Linked DNA regions of Homo sapiens: region 1 is linked to region 2. The links come from fine-mapping of genetic effects on gene expression. A gene starts in region 2. The other region holds a variant in brackets. All regions are shown on one strand. Distances are between the middles of the regions. Region 1 overlaps LINC01344 (long intergenic non-protein coding RNA 1344). Region 2 holds the start of LAMC1-AS1 (LAMC1 antisense RNA 1).

Region 1 (4,395 bases), 930 kb after region 2:
AAGCCAGAGCTCTTTTCTAACACTCCAACGAACTAACATCCTTATTTGAAGGTTGGAACTAGTAAGGCATATAATCGTGGAGAAGGCAATTAAGTATCTCTGAACCTGGGGTTTCTTCACAAATGAAGGTGGACTAGATGAATGCTAAGGTCCCTTTCCCTAAAATGCTCTCTTTCTATTGATCTAGGGCTAGTGGACTCTGGAGGGAGAGCTCACACCAATCTCAAGCAACAGCAGCAAGTAAATCAACAATAAATATTTATTTAGTGCCCACTCTATATGAGACAAATTATAGCTTTATTTTAATTATTCTAACAAGTCTGTGAGGGCCTGATTATTATCCTCCTTTTTATAGAGGAGGAGACCAAGGCTCAGAGAAGTTCAGAAGCATACCCAAAGTCACACAGTTAATAAGTAAACCCAGGAATGTCTGACTTTTTAAGTCCACGCTCCTGTGTCCACCACTTTATATTTGTAAGGAAGGTGGGGAAAGGATGGAGGGCAGGTATTGTAAGAGATGGTCATTTAAGGCCAGAGAAATACCTTACAGAGTGGTCACCTGGCAGAGTGGTCAGAGGTAAATCAGTTGAGATAAGCAGAGGTGCTTAGAACAGGTAATTAAAGCCCTGTTCTAGTCTCTCTTATTAGACTTTACTCCCAACCATAGGCAAATGTGCTACTTACTTCCACACATGGAGTCCTGCCCTGGAAGGAGCTTTGCCTGGGAGAGCTTGGCGTGGCATCCAGTCTTGCTTATGGAGACCACTTATCCCCTAAGTTAGTAAAACTTTTGTGCACCACCCTCCATTCCCCCACCATCTTGCCTCTCTGGACTTGTCTTGCCTCTCTGGACTTTAGCCTAGGTGACTTACAGAAATGCCAGACTTCTAGCCCAAGCCCTATTATGCCCAGTACTTTTCTGAGGCTGCTTCAAGTCTTGGTGTCTACTAGATAACGCTTGCTGGAGTATGATATCACCAGCTGTAATGGAAAGGAACAATCAGTGGTGAAAAAAAAATGAGACTCTGAAAAATAAACAAGGGTCCATGCCTGGTTATTCCAAGGTCAAGCCAGGTTTGCAAAGCAGATGCCCAGACTGATGGAGCACAAGCATGGGCTTTGGGACCTGGTAGATCTGGGTTTGGATAAGACTTGGCTATCCCCGCTTTCTGGCTTCAACTTAGAGTGTCAGTCAGTAAAATGAGGATGACTGGAACCTTGTAGGGTGGCTGTAAACATGGAAAACATGCACGACACTTTAAGCACTTTGGAGAGACAGAGAGGAAGCAGGTCCTGTTACCACGAGTGTTAAGGAAATAGCATGAGAAAAGCCTTTTCCCTGCTTTGAGTACTCAAGCAAGGATCACCATTTTTCACACTGTTTTGCTTCTCCAGAAACTGGAATGTGACTATTTGGTGAGTAACACCAACAATACCCACTGGACACTAATGTTCAGAAGGTAGCCAATCTCTGGAATTGAAAAGCAGCTCATGGAGGCTGCTGGAACACACCCCTCAGAGCCTTAATGAAGGGGTCTTACAACTTTTTACATAGGGAATTTTCAAAACTCACCTTTTTTCACTTCAAAATAGAGAAGCGGTAACTGCCTGAATGTGATTGTTATATAAGAAAATGAAGGAACATAGGCTAAAACCAGTAAAGGGAAAGGACAAATCAGACATAGTAAAAATATGTCATCTGCAAAGCAGGACGGGCCGAGAAATGTGGGAGGGACGT[C/ACGTC]CAGGATGGTAAATGGGCCCCTTGTCATGCAGGCAGCCCTATGTCCTGGTTAATGTCTTTGTCCTGGAATTGTTTTCAAGAGCACTGCCTTTAATTCTTAGAGCCGTCCCAGTGTGGATGATAAAGTCTTGGGTCACCTAGACATACAGAATATAGAGGAATATAGGATATCACTCACACATTTATGCGGGAGAGGCAAGCTATATATGCTCTTTGGGCTACAAAGCCCCAAGTTAGCCCAGGCAGATGGACACTCAGGGAAGGAACTTCCATAGCTACGCTGTCTGAGCCAGGGCACTCTTCCTCATATTTCTACTAAACCCCTCTGATTGTCACATAGGCTCATTTGGTGGCTGGTGAAATGGAAGTGGAGACAGAGGAGAAAACAGGAGGGTGCGGGGGCAAGGGAGGAGGGGCGGGATAAGCCCGAGGAGTCATAGCATCATCAGTCAACTATTCCATGCTATGGCATCAAATGGGGAAATGGACTCAATGACTGTGCTCGTCTGCTGTGGCTCAGTTTGTCTTTTTGGAAGGCAAAGGGATTACTTAGAGCATGGCACCATTAGTCAGTGGCCTGGCTTGGCCTAAGTCAGTGTCTCCTTACTTCACCCTTTGTGTTCTGAGATTCCTAGGAAGGATCTTAAAGAGGTCACCAGTTTCTGACCATTCTGAGGCTAGAACATGGGTTTTTGGTATTTGTCCCAGTCCCACCAGAAGTGAATATGTGTATATGTGTGTCCGGTGTGCCTCGTGGGTGTGCCTCACTGATCCAGGATGTGCACAAAGGCCTCACAGCCCCCTTGCCCCACCTTGCTGGGCCCCCTGTGTTCTATTTTAACAGCTCAGGGTAGCCTGATCTGAGGTCCTTCCATCCCATCCCCTCCTTGTTTACTGGAACATTGGGTCACCTCAGTGCAGCTGGAATGCAATCTCTGGGCGATTCAGTAAGGCCAAGGCGGGCCCTGCAAGGCGTCATGTCATTGCGTTGTTTTTCCTCCCCTCCCACTGAGTTTTCTTGGAAGTTCTGAGCCAGGCTCAGTGTGTATCTCCAAAGATGCATTCCAAATTCCCAGCTGCTTGCAACTCAGCAAGTCTCACTGCCTCTCCTTTTAAAACCCAGGCACCCTGAAAGGTTAGAGATAAAAAAAAGCCCACACATAGGCAAAGGGGGAGTGAAGCACTATATGGGGCCTGGAATGGGGGTGTCAAGCCTCTTGTGGTTTGCAACTGCCCATTGTCACATAGCATTCAACCATGATTTCCTCTCTTAAAAGCAAAGAGGAAAACAATCTCTGTGTAAGATGTTTTTGTGGCTTCATTGAAAAGAAAGATGGGCAAACTTGTCCCCAGTCTGTGCATCAGGCCCAGCTGAGGGGCCTGGAGGTGGCTGTGCTGCCCTTTTCCTCCCTGAGCACAGATCTTGCCTTATTCTCCACCATCCTGAACTCTGGTGATCTATCTCTGTCCATCTCCCTATTTCCCGCTAACTTCCCTGCCCCCATGCTTTTTTCCCTTTCATCTTTGTCTCTCCATTATGATTCCTTCCTTCCTTCCTGGACTAGAGGAAATAATGGAGGGCAGGGAGAAATAGCCAAACACATCAACTATTTAAAAATCACATTTATTTTTATCAAGAGTGAAAAAGGCACTGTGCTTTTCTTAGATCTGTTCTTGCTGTTGAGTGATATATTGATAACTTAGGGATGAGCTTTGGGTTCTCAATGTGTGATCATCTTCTGACCTACAGCATGAACAGCCTTGGAACCTGCTAGAAATGCACATTCCCCAGCCCCATCTCAGACCTCTTGGGGATAAGGCACAGAATCAGAATTTTAACATGTCCTCCAGGTGATTCTGTTGTGCATAAAAGTTTGAGAACTCCTGGTGTTAGAGGATTCTCCAAGGGGCTGGGGGTGAAAGGAGGTCTTGAGGTTTCTTTCTGCCCTCTGGATGTGAGGAGGATGGGGTCTGTCCTACACTGGTTAGGCCTGGCTCATGCACCTTGCCTTTCAAACTGGGGCAGGGGTGAGAGTGACAGTAAGGAGAGGAAGGACTGGGAGGGAGTTAATGGTAGCTCTGCTGGTGTTCCTTGTGAGCTGGATTCATGAGCAACCCTCTGGTCAGGGATCTACAGCTTTCTGATCTTCACATTGTGTTCAGCTTCCCTCTGAAAGCATGTGAACACCTGACACATGTTATGTAATGATGTGGATTCCATCACTCTGCTTCTCATCTGACCTTCAGCAACTAAGCTGACTACTGGTTGTAGATGGAAGTTGTGAAATCTATTGTTTATTTCTTTTCTTTTCTTGGACTAAAGCAAATAACTAAAAATAGGCTCTTTATCTTGTCAGTTCTGTTCCTATCTTCTGAAAGACTTTCAAGAAGAGCTCCAAAGATTATGAAGAGTGTTGGGATTATGAATTTAGACTCATGGTGTTTGGTTTGGTAGCTACTGGCCACATGGCTATTAAGCAATTGAAATGTGGACAGTTGGAACTAAGTCAGGCTGTAAGCATACAACACCCATCAGTTTGCAAAGGCTTAGTCCAAAAGAAAGTGTTAAGTTATTTCATGGATAATTTTTATGTTGATTTCATGTTGAAATGATAATGCTTTAGATATACTGGGTTAAATACAATATTTAAATTAAT
Region 2 (4,345 bases):
AGATGGAAACATCAGAAGAAAACTGGAGCTAAGGGTCAAATGTCTCATCTCTCCAACAGAAGAACAAATGGATACACGGGATTCTGACAGTACAAGCTGCCATCTAAGTTTTATCCCTTTGCTAGAAAAGACTAGGACGAGGAGGCTTGTTTTTCTTCTGTTTTGTCAAGACCTTAGGGATTAACTGTTCTCTGCCAGATACTTAACACTAGTTCCAAGACTAACTAATAAAAAAGCTGTAAGAATTAGTTTGATTTTGAAAACAAAATTTTAGTGGTTATCATATCCCTATTTCTTCTGTGTAAGTTCCATTTATAAGAATATCAAAAGATGTCTTTTGGTCTATTGGTGAGTGCAAGCTGCCCATCCAGATTTAAATTATCAGCTGCCCAAAGATCTGAAAAAAAGTTCATCTTCCTAGTCAATTATTAATATACTAGAAAAATCTTCAGCCATGTTCACCTGGAGACTTTTATAAATAATTGCATCCTGACCCACGGATGGCTCAGTGTCCTACACTCATAATAACTAAAAGCACTGATGGATGGCTACCGACATTCTAAATGACCAATACCTTTGGCACAGGATGTTTATTTCCTTTTGCTTAGAAGGAAGAGGGGTAGGAGATGCAGATGCATTTTCTTTATCCATGGACTGGATATACTGGCCATCACAATGCTACTGTTAGTAGCCAAACTTTTCCTTCATAGAAACAAGAGTACTGAGACTGAGGAGGTTCTGCTGGTATCGATGAGACAGGGGAGGGCTACTTGCTCTACCCCAGCATACATGGGCTCACACGATGTGCTTATGCCACTGTACAGTAACGTAGGATGCCACGTCCTCACGCAAATCAGAAGGGAAAGTGTGGGTAAGGTAGCAACGTGAATGGAAGAGACACTTTATTAGATAAAACCCTTTGTTCCCGATTCAGGATGTTTAATTTGCTTCTCTTTAAACTCTGTGACTTTTCCTGGTTCAAAAGGACAGTCATGGACAGCAGCAGAGGAGTGGGGGTCTGAAAAATGTAATCTTTGTGTCAAGGCACTCTGTGGCCTCACAACTGCCCCCCTGTCAGAGGGATGCTGCCTTCCAGCCCTAAAGACACTAGGGCTTTTCAATGGACGGGGTGTTGAAGCAGCCAGATGGTAAGGTCTTCCTGATGTCCTCCAGATTGCGAATGTCCTTCATGATCTCCTCGATATCTCGGTTATAGTCCATGATGGCAGCCTCCTGCTTCTTGGCTTCATTCTCCAGGTCAGACACTTTCCTATCAAGATCGCTGACCTTCATTTCATCTTTGGCTTTGTTTAGGGTGCCTTCAATCTCGTTTAGCTTATTCAGGTCCACTGTATCCAGCTGCCCTGGAGGGTCAGAAAGTACATAGAAGAGAACAGACATATTCAGTAAGAATGATCCCTTCACAAGTACCTGCACTAGACTCTAGGCCCAGCAGCTGCCATTCTGCACAGGCAGCCCGGCAAATGTGACTTGCAGATTGTTGATGTCACACAATGGTATAAAATATGCAAACCAAGTACAAATGCTGACCTAACCCAGCAGGGATGGGTCTGAGCATACAATTAATATAGAGCTGGATGTTTCTTTCTGAGACAATGGTTTTTGCAGAATGTTTCCTCAATGCACAGCTACCATGTTCTAGACCTTTGAGGGCCATCTGATAACATTTAATACCTTTTCCAGGTGTATACATGTAAACTCTATGTCATTTTAGTGCCATCAAAGATACACAAATCTCTAAGAACCCTAATCCCTCAGCTCTTAGAGAGATTCCAGGGAAGATGGGTCAGTTTTGAAGGTCACTTTCTGCTTTCAGGAGTTAGACACTATTAGGAGCCTTCCTATGGAAAATGGCCAGGAGTAAAATGCTGAAATAATTTCAGCAAGTCTTCACTTTAAGCTTAGCAAGAAAAAGAGGTTCTTTTGAAAGAAATGAGATGTTTCCATAACAAACAAAAGCAGACACAATAGACAGCATTTCATGCATACTTGACTTGATTAAAGTCTCACAAGACCATTTTACATCAGTGATTCTCAGATGTTAAATAATTTGCCCAAGTTTGCACAGCCTATAGGCAACAAAGCAAAGATACTAACCCAAGTCAGACTAATGTTAAAAGTCTGGCTGTTCCACAAAAAGCTTTCTCTTCTAGCTTACTTTCATTTTATATCCATCTGTTGGCACATAACTTATTCTTGACATTTGAGACCGATAAAAAATACCCCTGTAGCCCCCCACCAAAACAAAATGCACCAGTCTTTAAAGGCTGGCAAATTAAAATATAATGCCTTGCTACAAAGAGTCCTGGCTAGAGTGTTGACACTTTATAATGGAGTCTGGTGACAAAAGTGCATCTGTCCTAAAATGAAGCCTGCTCCCTAACACCCTATCAAACTGGATTAAAAGAAGGTTTCCGTATGCATAGATTTCCTTGAAAAATCAAGGTTTTTCTCTCTTTTGGCATGAAAGCTTTCCCCTCATCGGACTGTCCTTACTTAGCAAATGAAGAGAATTCCAGGCAGTAAAGTCATGACCAGTTTTAAGTGTTCTTTTTCGTTTTTTAAATTGAGACAGGGTTTCGCTCTGTTGCCCAGGGTGGAGTGCAGTGGCACGATAACAGCTCACTATCACCTCAAACTCAAGTGATGCACCTGCTTCAGTCTCCCGGGTAGCTAGGACTACAGGCGTGTAGCACCACACCCAGCTAATTTTTAAAATAATTTGAAGAGACGAGGTGAGATCTCGCTATGTTGCCTAGGCTGGTCTCAAACTCCTGGCCTCAAGCTATCCTCCTTGCATGGCTTCTTAAAGTACTGGGATTACCAGTGTGAGCCATCACACCCAGCCTGTGATTCTACTATTCTTTTATTCTACTATTGAAATCCTTTACTTTAAATCCCTTAAAGATACTGCCAGCAAGATGAGTTAAGAAAAATCACTGTTTAGTTGTACAATGATACTGGACCATAAATGCTACCCTAGCTGGCAATATATCTTCAAAATATAAAAAGAAACTCCTCAGACCACAGTGTTCTACTTAGGGCAAGGTCCACAGAAGGCACCTAGTAAGTACTTGTCACATTAACACAGCCTAAAGTCATGATTCAGGTCACACTGTAAAGCTGACAAATAATAAGTATGGTAAAGAAGCAAGTTGCTCTTAAAGACCCTGTCATGCAAGACAAACATTTATTTTATAAGGCTTTCAAAAATAAGCAACAGCAAAAGGAAATATTAATAATTTAATTAATGACTTAAAAGGGATTCATGTAAACCTATATCATCTGCTTTTGAGTCAACTGTACTATATCAGATCCTAAGAACAGTACAAAAGATTCAGAGACTGACAAAAATGACTCTATGGCTACGTACCCAGCTGCTCCAAGAGGTCATTAATAATGCTGAGGAGGCTAGTAACAGAGTTTTTGGCTTTTCTGGCATTGATCTCGGCTTCTTGAGCAGCCTGTGAAGCCTGTAAGGGAAAAATGAGGCAAAGAGTCTTGACTGTATGTTTTCATCTTCTTTAAATCTTTTTTCCCAATGACCCAACAAATCTAATTTCCAGATTTTCTTCCCTTTTCTAACTTAGGAAATTGAAACCTCTCATTGCTTTTTTTTTTTTTTTTTTTTGGTGGGGCTGCTGCATATCTTCATATTGAGGATGTTGGTATTTCTACTTCATCAAAGTTATGACTAGGCAGTCAGGATGCCTACACTCACTAACTCACTATATTTGTACTTCAAAAATTAATCTCCTTTTCTCACATTCTAACTCAATAATATATGGAGGTATATTCATAGTAAAGCCTATTAAGCAGAAACAAGTTATTTTTTAAGGATGATTATAGAAACTATGTTTCAGAACCAAAACATGTCCTTCAGGACACTCTTAGGGACTTATTAGAAATGTCCTATTCTTTGAAAATTTTCATAGTTAAGTAAAGCTCTTCTAGGAGTTCTCTTCTGTAAACTCCCCCTCCACATGCAATGACCCAGCCACAGTCCCCCTGACACACATACTCATTTATTGGGGCAATATAATTTACATTTTAAAAACCAAACAAAGGTAAATACACTTGGGAAATTCCATGAAACCTGAACAAATAACTGTGCATGAGTCATAGGAAACAGCAATGGAAGAGGAAGTGTCTAAATATCAGAAAACAGATGTTCTCACAAATAAATCTAGTTGAGATTTAAGTAAGTGGCTCTGAGCCTCTTACCACATAATTGTTTTTCCTAGTTTTGAGTAAGGACAACACAAACATTTTGGGATCAAAACAATGTGAAGATTTAAAAAAGAACAAGAAAGCAAGGCAGAAA

The links. PIP is the estimated chance that this variant, and not a neighbour inherited with it, causes the effect. A credible set is the group of variants that fine-mapping cannot tell apart.
Region 1: its variant is the best candidate, but not a certain one, in a credible set for the expression of LAMC1-AS1 in thyroid (GTEx, PIP 0.74).

What each region holds. Positions count from the first base shown.
Region 1 is chr1:182,205,368-182,209,762 of GRCh38, reverse strand. The region is part of intron 2 of LINC01344 (long intergenic non-protein coding RNA 1344); the gene reads left to right. Among named protein-coding and RNA genes, the nearest start is that of LINC01344, 110 kb to the left of the region's middle. The variant C/ACGTC (reference allele first, on the strand shown) is at 1,739.
Region 2 is chr1:183,139,553-183,143,897 of GRCh38, reverse strand. It overlaps LAMC1-AS1 (LAMC1 antisense RNA 1), which reads left to right and starts at 2,628. Exons shown (of 3, transcript NR_149048.1): 1 at 2,628-2,756; 2 at 2,929-3,087. LAMC1 (laminin subunit gamma 1) reads right to left here. Exons shown (of 28, transcript NM_002293.4): 27 at 3,395-3,494; 28 at 1-1,364. The coding sequence ends at 1,108.